Regions from separate parts of the Homo sapiens genome. Here region 1 is linked to region 2. A link means that fine-mapping ties the variant in region 2 to the expression of a gene that starts in the linked region. Tissue or cell type: prefrontal cortex. Region 2 holds a variant in brackets; the other region holds the start of a gene. All regions are shown on one strand. Distances are from middle to middle.

Region 1 (5,147 bases), 62 kb before region 2:
GCTTTACCCCATCCACCCTTTATCAGGACGAATCTATTAAGTAAACTCAGAATTCTCATGGCACTCCCTCTCTGGATGCCTCTGCACCTCCCCACTCCATTCTCCAGGGAGCTGTGCCCTCATGCATGGTTCTTCCCAATGCACAGGGCCCTACCATGCCTTTCCCCATTCAAATGTTGCTGCATCTTGAGGCCTCACCCCGGGTGCCAACTTCTTGAATCCTGATGGATCCTCCATAAAAGTTCCATTTTCCCTCTGAGCCCCTATTGCTCTCAGAGTCTCTTCCATGACACACTGCAGATGATTGTCCTGTTTTGTGCTCTGTCCCATTCCTCAGACTAGAATGTGCAATTGGAAATTGGAACTCATCTTCCTCCTGGAATACCCCATAGCCCCTAGCACTCCATCGTTATATATCAATTGGACAATTCATTGCACCCTCCTGTTTGTCACCGTTCACAGGTGCATGTCTTCCTGGCTGTATACACCTACACCGGGGGTTCTCAACCTTGGCACTTGGGCTGGAATATGCTTAGTTCTGGGAACATCCTGTGCATTGGATTGTTTAGGAGTACACCTGGCCTCTAGATGCTAGTAGCTCTGCCTCCAAATTATGTCAGACAAAAATGTTCCTATGGGACAAAATTGCCCCCTGTTGAGAAATGTCTAACTTGGGCAAAAGTTAGAAATAAGTGTATTCATGAATTAGAAGAATCATACTTTCAAACGTTTGTTCAAACTCTCAAGCTGTATGATTAGTTGCAGACATGACCAGTACACCAAATACAGTATCTAGGAGGGCCTTGCATTTAAGAGCTCAGACTTGGGAATCAGATTGCCTGGGTCCAAGTTCCAGCTTTACCCCTCAGTGGCTGAGATATCAGTGATCCCAGCAGTAATCTTAGACAAATTGCTCAACCTCTTGATTCCTCAGTTTCCTCATCTGTAACACAGATTAAAACAGTACTTAATTAATTGTGTTGATTTGAAGAGTAAGTGAATTAAATATGCACAGCACTAGATTTTACTTGTATGGACATTTTTCTTAGCTCTGGTTGCACCCCTGCCCTTTTATACTGATGTATCAAACCTGTACATTGTGCACATGTACCCTGGAACTTAAATTATAATAATTAAAAAAAGTGAATCTCAATGCATGTTTCATTTCCCAACAGAGCAAACAACATTTTCTGGTAATGTCTGTCTTCCACAGGGCAGGCATCATCTCAACTCGTAGAAGGCATACTGAGTCCTCTCCTCCCCTCTCCCCCAGAAGCCAGTTCATCAGGTTCATCAGGGTGTGCCATCTACAGTTCTTCCAGAACCTATTCGCCTCTCATCTTTTCTGCCATCATCCTAATCCAGACCACCATCACCTCTAAGGTGGAGACTTTCTAACTACACTCCTCTACTACATACTCCTCTCTGTTCCCCTAAACCCACTGCCCACACAGCAGTTGGAAAGGCATTTTATAAAGCATGTGTCCAGTCACATCACTAATCTCCAGTGGATTCCCCTTGCACTTTGAATAAGGTCCCAACTCCTCAACCTGGCTGACAAGACTTTCTGATGCAGCCACTGAGCACCTCTCCAGTCTGAATTTACATCACTCTCTCCTTTGTTCACCTTCACTCTGCCATAGTCACCTTGCACATTTCTTTTCCTTGAATATGCCAATTTCATTCCCACCACAGGTCCTTTGCACCAGCCATTCCTTCTACCTGGAACATGACTGCCCTGACCACCACATACGAGCTCACTACCTCAAAGAAGATTCCTTGATCACTGCCCCATCAAAGAAGACGGTCTTTATTTTCTTCATACCATTAATCAATATCAGGAATTCCATTGCTCATTTATCTGTTCACTTGCTTATTTTCTCTCTCCCATACCTGAGTGTAAGCACCAGGAATGCAGAAACCTGGTCTGGTTTTTTCTCTTCATTATCCCCAGAACTCAGAACAGAACCTAATACAGAGTAGGTGCTCAATGAAACTTTGTTGAATGAATGAATGAACAAAAACCTCCTCTTCCCAACTGAACTGTCATCAAATAAGCAATAAGTGAATTTGCTGATGAGCTTCTCCTGCAGCTGGGTATTGTCATGCCCGTTACCCTCCTGCCCACCATATACCCGCCTACCAGTCCACCAGCCCTTCCAAAGGCTGGCTTTTGGTGCCTTTCCAAGGGGAGGGGAAGAACAGCCACTGCAGCAGCTTCGACGTGTGTTGCAGGGAAGTTGCTCCACCTACATTTGGTTCCTTGGGTTTTTCAGATGCTACTTCATTAATCATCCACTTGTCTGCACCCAAGAGTTCTCCATGACATGCTCTTCTAGAATCCTTTCTATGACATCAGTTGCTATGCACCAGGATATTCTGAAAAAGGGAGGGTCTGTCACTGTCACATTTGTATTAGTTTTCTATTGCTGCTGAAATACATTACCACAAATTTAGTGGCTTAAACAACACAATTTATTATCTTAAAGTTCTATAGCCCTGAAGTCAGAAATGGGTCTCACAGGCCTAAAATTAAGGTGTCAGCAGGGCTGTGCTCCTTCCCAAAGGCTTTAGAAGAGGATTCATTCCCTTGCTCATTGAGGTTGTTGGCAGAATAAAGTTTCTGCAGTCACAGGGCTGAGTTCCCTGTTTCCTTGCTGGCTGTCGGCTAAGGGCCATTCCCAGCTGCTAAGCACTGTCTGCATTTCTTAGCTCTGTTGCCTTCCTCTATCTTCAAAGCCAGCAAGGGTGAGTCAAACCCTCTCACACTTTGAATTTCTCTTGCCTCTTCTTCTGTCATTGTATCTTTCTGACCCTCTTTTCTTCCTCCCCTTCCCTGTCTAAGGACTCATGATTAGATTGGTCCAGCCGGACCATCCAGGATAACCTCTGCTTCTCAAAGTCTTTAACCTTAAACACATCTGCAAAGTCTCTTTTGCCATGCAAACTAACACATTCAGAGGTTCCAGGGGTGAGTGTTACCGAACAAAAGTGATTCAATGCATTGGAAGCCAACGCTATGACACTGGGTGTTTGAGAAAAGGCTTTTTATTGAAATATAAATATTTAATTTTAAATATATAATCAATATATTGTCGATTTTCAAGGAGACAGCAGTGTCAACCTCAAATCTGTCTCCTGTGATGCAGTATTTTTATTAGAAAAAGTTTAGGGGATTCTAAGATTAGTAGGTGATTTGGTGGAAGAAAGGGAAGGGCTGGAAAGTCCTGGGTCATATGCAGTTATCTCTTCATACTATTTTATGGGTCCCCTGGGCAATTATGGGGAAAGTTAGTATAAAGCACATGGTGGAAATTTAGTCTGTGACATCAGCAAGCTGGTTCTGCCTAGACTCTGGTCGGCCATCTTGGTTCCAGCTGATTTCAGCCAGTTCTTATATCTCATAAGCAGAGGGAGTTTCAGTATTTCAGCAAGTTGTTTCTTTTCTTACCTGCCATCCTGCAAACTCAAGAATTTCTGTTAGTCATTGGTTTTTTTAACTCTTTGGGGCATGGCTTCATTAGGACACCTTTGGGAGATCAGTATTCTGCCTGCTACAGCATTCTTCCGGGCCCTCATAGGACTGCCTTCTAGGTGGAACAGTGGGAGAAGCCCTTATGTAGCTTTCCTAGTCACCAGAGGGCCATGGTCAAAGACATCCTCTCTTGGGGCCTGGGCATCTTCATCTGTGACTTGAGGGCATCAGACTGGGTTATCTTTAAGGTCCTTTTCAGCTCCAAAAGTTAAGAGATATTGAGATGATTGAGGGCAAATTGGCCTTTTGAAAACACATTAGTCTGTCTGGCTGACTCAATTAGAACTGGTAATTAGTCGATTAATTGAAAATTAATAATGTAAAGAATCATAAAAGAAAAACTAAAACCAGGCCATAAACGCTGAGGCTTAAATCCATACATGCCTATTTTCTCAACAGTCTTTAGTGTTGGCTCAGCTGGAGGCTGGTTGGCAGAAAACTAAGGTGTTTTCACAGAAATCAGTTAATCGAGAAACATTCCATCTGCAGAAACTCCCACCTCTGAAGGCATAATAGTGGAAATATTCTCCTCATCCACAGCGGTAGACAGTTTGAAAAAAAAAAAAAAAAGGCCACAATTTTACAGTCTTCTCTGTATCTGTGCCCCTTGGCTTTGCAACTTAGCTGCTCCCATCAAGGGATGCCATCCACTCCCCACCCCAGGGGTTGGGTTGGCCTGTCTTGCTCTGACAATAGATCACAGTGGAATGAGGTAGTACTAATCCTAGGCCTCAGGAAGCCTGATGGCCTCTGCTCACCCTGAGCTCTGCCACCACCACATGAACATGCCTGGCCTCATCTTGCAAGAAATGAGTGGCACCAGTCACCCCTATTGCTACAGTGGATGACAGTTAACTGCCACACATGGAAGATCACCCTAGGCTGGCCAGCCCCCAGCTGACCATAGATACATGAATGATGACAGCCATGATCAATCAAGTCCAGTCAAGATAAGCAGAAGTGTCCAGTTGACCCTCAGCCTAGTAAGCAATGATGAATATTTCTTGCATTTAGCCACTGTTGTAAGTCTGGGGTGAGGAGGTTGTTACACAGCAATTGATAACGGACACATCCCCTCAGCTCCATGCTCTTGCTTTGGTCTGCGCCTCCAGGCAACCATCTGTCTGGGCCCCTAGCACACGGGCCATCTGCTCTGGAGCCTATTGACAAGCACCAACTGTTCTGCGGAATCAACTGGGCAAGCTGTGCCGCAATCACACAACTTCCAGCAAAGGTCTTATTCCCAGAGGAAAGGGAATTGCCCTTCTTTCCCGATATGACATTTACCTTTCCCAGAAAAATTGACCTAGGAGCCCTCATGGTGCAGGGGCCTCCTCAGGCAAAAACCCCAGGGTTTGCTGCCCTGTTATTTGCCCTGTTGAGTTACTGGGTGTGACTGGATGCAATAGGCTTTGTTACCAATGGGGTTTAGTGCACTGGCTGTATACACTGAGTAAACTGGGCAGAATCCTCTCTTTCTTAGAGCTATGGCTTATTATATTGGCCACATCCAAGCACCTGAGAATCCTTCTTAGACCCTAAAAAATGTGCTAGAAATTGTGGCAAGTGTTGGGCACATCAAAGTGAGCTCATAGCACAGTGTGGTACTTAC
Region 2 (5,147 bases):
ACCACATAAACACCACGTAATATATATATATATAGAGAGAGAGAGTACTAGAATTTCTAACCACTGCAATAAAAGAAGAAAAATAAATAAAATGTTGCCCAGGCTGGTCTCAAGCGATCTGCCTGCCTCAGGCTCCCAAAGTGCTAGGATTACAGTGGACTGCACCATTGCACTCCAGCCTGGGTGACAGAGTGAGACTCTGTCTCAAAAAAAAAAAAAAAAAAAAAAAAAAAATATATATATATATATATACACACACATATATATACACATATATATACATATATACACATATATATATACACATATATATACATATATACACACATATATATATACACATATATATACATATATACACATATATACATATATATACACATATATATACATATATATACACACACATATATATATATAGTACTAGAATTTCTAACCCCTGCAATAAAAGAAGAAAAATAAATAGATTGAGAAGGAAAAAATAAAACTGTTTCTATCAGAAATGATACAACTGTCTATGTAGAAAATCACAAGCAATCTTTTTAAAAAATCCTCCAAATAAGAAGTGAGTCTAGCAAAGTAGCAGAACACAAGATCAACGAACAAAAATCAACCACATTTTTTTTTTTTTTTGAGACAGAGTCTCACACTGTCACCCAGGCTGGAGTGCAGTGGCGTGATCTCAGCTCACTGCAACCTCCATCTCCCGGGTTCAAGCGATTCTCCTGCCTCAGCCTCCTGAGTAGCTGGGACTACAAGTGTGCGCCACCATGCCCAGCTAATTTTTGTATTTTTAATAGAGACGGGGTTTCACAATGCTGGCCAGGATGGTCTCGATCTCTTGACTTCATGATCCACACACCTCGGCCTCCCTAAGTGCTGGGATTACAGTTGTGTAATGACATTACAGCTGGAAATGACAGTTGTGTCATTTCCAATAGGAACAGCCTGGGCAACGGAGTAAGACCCTTCCTTGAAAAAACGAAAAATAAACCAAAAACCCCCCGCAAATAACAAAGGGAAGAAAAGATAATTTTAAAGTGAAAAAATCTGGGAGATACTACCTTAGCCAAGTGATCAAAGTTAGTATTACCAGTAATGGGACAGTCCTGGCTCACTGCAGCCTTCATGTCCGGAAAGCAAGCATCAATCCTCCCACCTTAGCCCCCCCAAGTAGCTGGAACTACAGGAATGCACCACCACACCCAACTAATTATTGTATTTTTTGTAGAGGTGGGGTTTCACCATGTTGCCCAGGCTGGTCTCAAGCTATCTGCCCGCCTCAGCCTCCCAAAAGTGCTGGGATTACAGGCATGAGACAGGATGCCCGGCCTGCTTATGCTATTTTTAATGTCCGAATAATCCACATAATGGTTTTTGTTTTAGTGTACATGGTTATATGTTACTATTATGAATTAGGAAGAATTTTATATTTGAAACAATTTTTTTTATAGGATCTTGCTCTGCTGCCTAGGCTAGAGTGCAGTGGTGCAATCATAGCTCACTGCAGCCTCAGGGATCCTCCTACCTCAGCCTCCTAAGTATCTACAACTACAGGTGTGTGCCACTGTGCCTGGCTAATTTTTAAAAAATTTTTTTTGCAGAGACAGGATCTTGCCATATTGCCCAGGCTAGTCTTGAACTCCTGGCGTCAAGCAATTTCCCGAACTCAGCCTCCAAAACTGCTGGAATTACAGGTGTGAGCTGCCGTACCCAGCTCGAATTCTTAATTGAAAATGTTGCATAAGCCCACCAATAAAATAAAATAGTTTGTTAATGAATATGTAAATATTTGTGTAATATACATAATTTAAAGCATGTCCCGGTACTCTCTTAAAGTGTCTACATTTGGACACTTGAGGCTATGTGCCTGGGAATTCATTGCAAAATTGCCCTTGAGGTGGTTGAAGTCAGACATTCAGGCAGAGATGATAGTGATGGCTCCAGGGCAGCCTTCAGCCCTGCTTTCAGTCACCCTCCACCCACCACCCCTTCCCCCACATGCTCAACTCAGAGCCCTGGGTCCCAAAACAGATACACTCCATTAACAAGCAAGGGTATGCCCTCCCACTCCAAACGGCCAACAGGCAAAAGACCAGAACCAACAAATATCTGGAGGGATTTGGGTTCTTCTGAGCAGACTCATCACCCACCTCCCTTCTCTTTTCCCCCTGCCCTCCCTCTCTCCTCCTTCCCTTAAACACCTTCATTCCACGGGTGACAACACTGAGGTCCAGAAGGGGCAGAGGCTGAATTAATGGCATGGTCAAGATCACCACAGAGCCAGGACTCAACCTATCCTTCTGGTTTCAGGAGAGCCCTGCAATGGTGTAGGAGGCAGGAATCTTGGCTTAGGATTCACCTGCCCTGGCTTTCAACAGGCTGCTCACTCCAGCCTGGAGCAAGCCACTGTGCCCATCAGGACCCAGCCCATGTAGCTCCTGACTGGGCTTCCAGGAAGGGCTGCGTGGCACAGCCCGTGGTTCCCTGCCCCCTGCAACCTGCAGCACACCACCCTGTGCCCAGGGGTGAAGTGCTCTCAAACAACTGCTCTGGTCACCAATCCCCACCCCAACCCTCAAAGCAAAGTCTCCACCCTCCCTGTTCCTGGACGATTCATTTCATCCTGTTTCCTCCTCCAGGAGCCTGGTTAGAGGCGTCTGAAAGGCAGCTCATCCCTCCTTGGCAAACTCCCTCTCCCACTCTGGAAGACAAAGAGGCTGTTGACTCCTCCCTGGCAGTAAGGAGCACCCAGCCCTTGGGAACTAGGCTCCTGGGAAGGTGGGTTTGCCTCTCCTCCCTTCCCAATGGGTCTTTGGCAAAAAGAAGCAACTCTTCCTGTGACATACCTAAATCACTCCTGCTGCTTCCAGCCAGTTCCCTCC[G/A]GCTCCACGGAAAAGCCATTATGCAACTCCAGGCTTTGCGTGCATGTGAAGTGGCTGGTGCTGGTCAGGACATCTGTTCTTCAAGATGGAATGTGTGCCCATTGTCCAGTGCAGATAACCCAGACCCCAGCCTGTAACCCTGAGAGGAAGACGGAAGCTGGCTCCTCTCCAACACGTCACCGCACTGCATGCCTCACCAGAGCACAGATGGTGGCATTCCAAGTGCTGAGGAGCCCCTGACACTTACACAGAGTTTAGCTATCTTCCAGGGAAGCAGGATTTTGTGGGGGCTCTAAATTCATCTATGACTTAAGCAACAGTTCTCTGTTAACCAGACCTTGGGTTACCCAGAGCATGCTCTCCCCTGGCTTCAGCAGCCAGCAGGGAGAGCCTTCTTTGGGAGCCAGGGACGTGGGGGTGCTCCTGGGTTCCCAGACCTCCAGAGAGATCATAAGAAAGTGGGAAAAGAACCTCAAGCTCCAGCCCAGCCCCACACTGTGTGGTGTGTAGCTTGGAGCTCTTTGGATTTCAGCTTCCTCAGAGATGGGCAGACAATCTCTCAGACTGTCCAGCTTAGGGACTGTCTCTTGTTTCTAACACATATGTCATCTATTGGCTCCCCAAAACATACCCTGCTCTGTCCTCTGCCTCCATAGAATACGGGCTAGGAGGTTAAACCATCCTCCAAACCACCAGGGTCTGAAACTTCCAGCCCTTCCCCCAAAACAAAGATATATTGCAGTTCCAGAGGGGGACTATGCTTCTCAGTCCTGGGGCCACAAAGATCCCCCAGCCAAATCTCACCTCCCACATATGGTACAAAAAGGCAAAGTACACATACAGGGCCTAAAGACCGTGACATCAGAGCACAGGAGGGAGGCAGGATAGGAGCTGTGGGAACAGTCCATTCTTATTCACTATGTGAGCTTCCCCAGGTCCCTTAGCCTCTCCCAGCCTCAATTTCTTCAACAATATAATGGGCACAAGTATACACCCCAACAGAGCCCAGGGTGTGGCCCAGAGTCTCCTTAATACTTACTCAGTTCTGCTCCCTGCCCAACAGGTCACTGCTCTGCCCACCCTGTGCTTCTTCTCATGCCACAGGGAAAACTGGACCAGCCACCCCCTTCTCATAGGGAAATCCTGCAATCCCATCATTCGGAGTGATGATCAAGCCCGGACATAGCCTTCATTTATGAAGGCCTGGTCCAGCAGGAATTGTGCACTCCTTTCTCTGAGCCAAAAAGAGGAGTAGGATTGAGTAGCACCTGAATAAATAGAAATTTCTGCCTTTACCCCAGATAAGCAGAGTGGCTTTGCTGAGTATAAGAAACAAACTCTGGGTCCCCTTCATGCTGTTTTCTCCATCCCCCAGTGTAGTTACCTTATTTCATGAGGAGAACCCAGGGTCTTGATAGCTTTGGGCTCACTGTGGCTCCTGGAAAGGGCTGTGCTTGTTTCTGAAAACCAACTGATTGGTTCTCATTATCAATCTAACAAAATCCCAGTCCCTTTCTAGCATGTCCCTGGAGCTCTGTCCTCATGCCTGACCTGAGATCACACCCTGACCCTGACCCACACTCAGCCCTGACCTTGTAGAGGCTGGGACTTCAAAAGGAGTCTGAACCCAGCGAGACAGAAGTATCTACACAATACTGAAACGCTGTTACTAGAGCTTCTCTCTCCCTTACTGGCTTTGACGAAGCAAGCAACCATGTTGGGGAACCTCACATGTCAAGGAGCTCAGGCAGCCTCGAGAACCACGGGCAGCCTCCAGCTAACAGCCTTCAAGGACCTCCAGCAGCCAGCAAGAAAGTGAGGTCCTTGGTCCTATAGCCGCAAGAAACAATTCTGTCAACAACTACATGAGCTTGGAAGCAGACCCTTCCCCAGCTGGGCCTCAGGTAAAACCACAGCCTTGACTGATTCCTGCATTGCAGCCTTGTGAGACTCTGAATTACAGGACCCAGCTGAACTTAGCTGGGTTCTGAATTACAGAACCCAGCTAAGACTCCTGATCACGAAAACTGTGAGATAATAAGTATTCATTGTTTTATGCTGCTAAGTTTGGGGTCATTTGCTACACAATAGATAGCTAATATAGAGCTGTACTGGGAAGTCTTGACAGAACTTCAGGTCATTGAGATAGCTAAGGGTGGTCAAAATATTAGGCAGCCGTTGCGGCAGGGTAGTGTGAAATAGATAACAGCTACATTTTACTGAGCACTTACTATGTGCCATGCACTGTGCTAAATGCTTTCC

Direction of the effects. Alleles are on the strand shown, and positions count from the first base shown. SD is a standard deviation of normalised expression in the study named.
In carriers of allele A in region 2, the expression in prefrontal cortex of the gene that starts at base 2,337 in region 1 tends to be lower than with G alone (small effect, 0.37 SD a copy in BrainSeq).

What was found. PIP is the estimated chance that this variant, and not a neighbour inherited with it, causes the effect.
Region 1: LYZL4 starts here. The variant in region 2 is the best candidate, but not a certain one, in a credible set for the expression of LYZL4 in prefrontal cortex (BrainSeq, PIP 0.54).

The regions. Positions count from the first base shown.
Region 1 is chr3:42,408,274-42,413,420 of GRCh38, forward strand. LYZL4 (lysozyme like 4) reads right to left here and starts at 2,337. Exons shown (of 5, transcript NM_144634.4): 1 at 2,144-2,337.
Region 2 is chr3:42,470,745-42,475,891 of GRCh38, forward strand. It overlaps LOC124909371 (a long non-coding RNA gene), which reads right to left and starts at 2,937. Exons shown (of 2, transcript XR_007095891.1): 1 at 2,850-2,937. The variant G/A (reference allele first, on the strand shown) is at 2,886.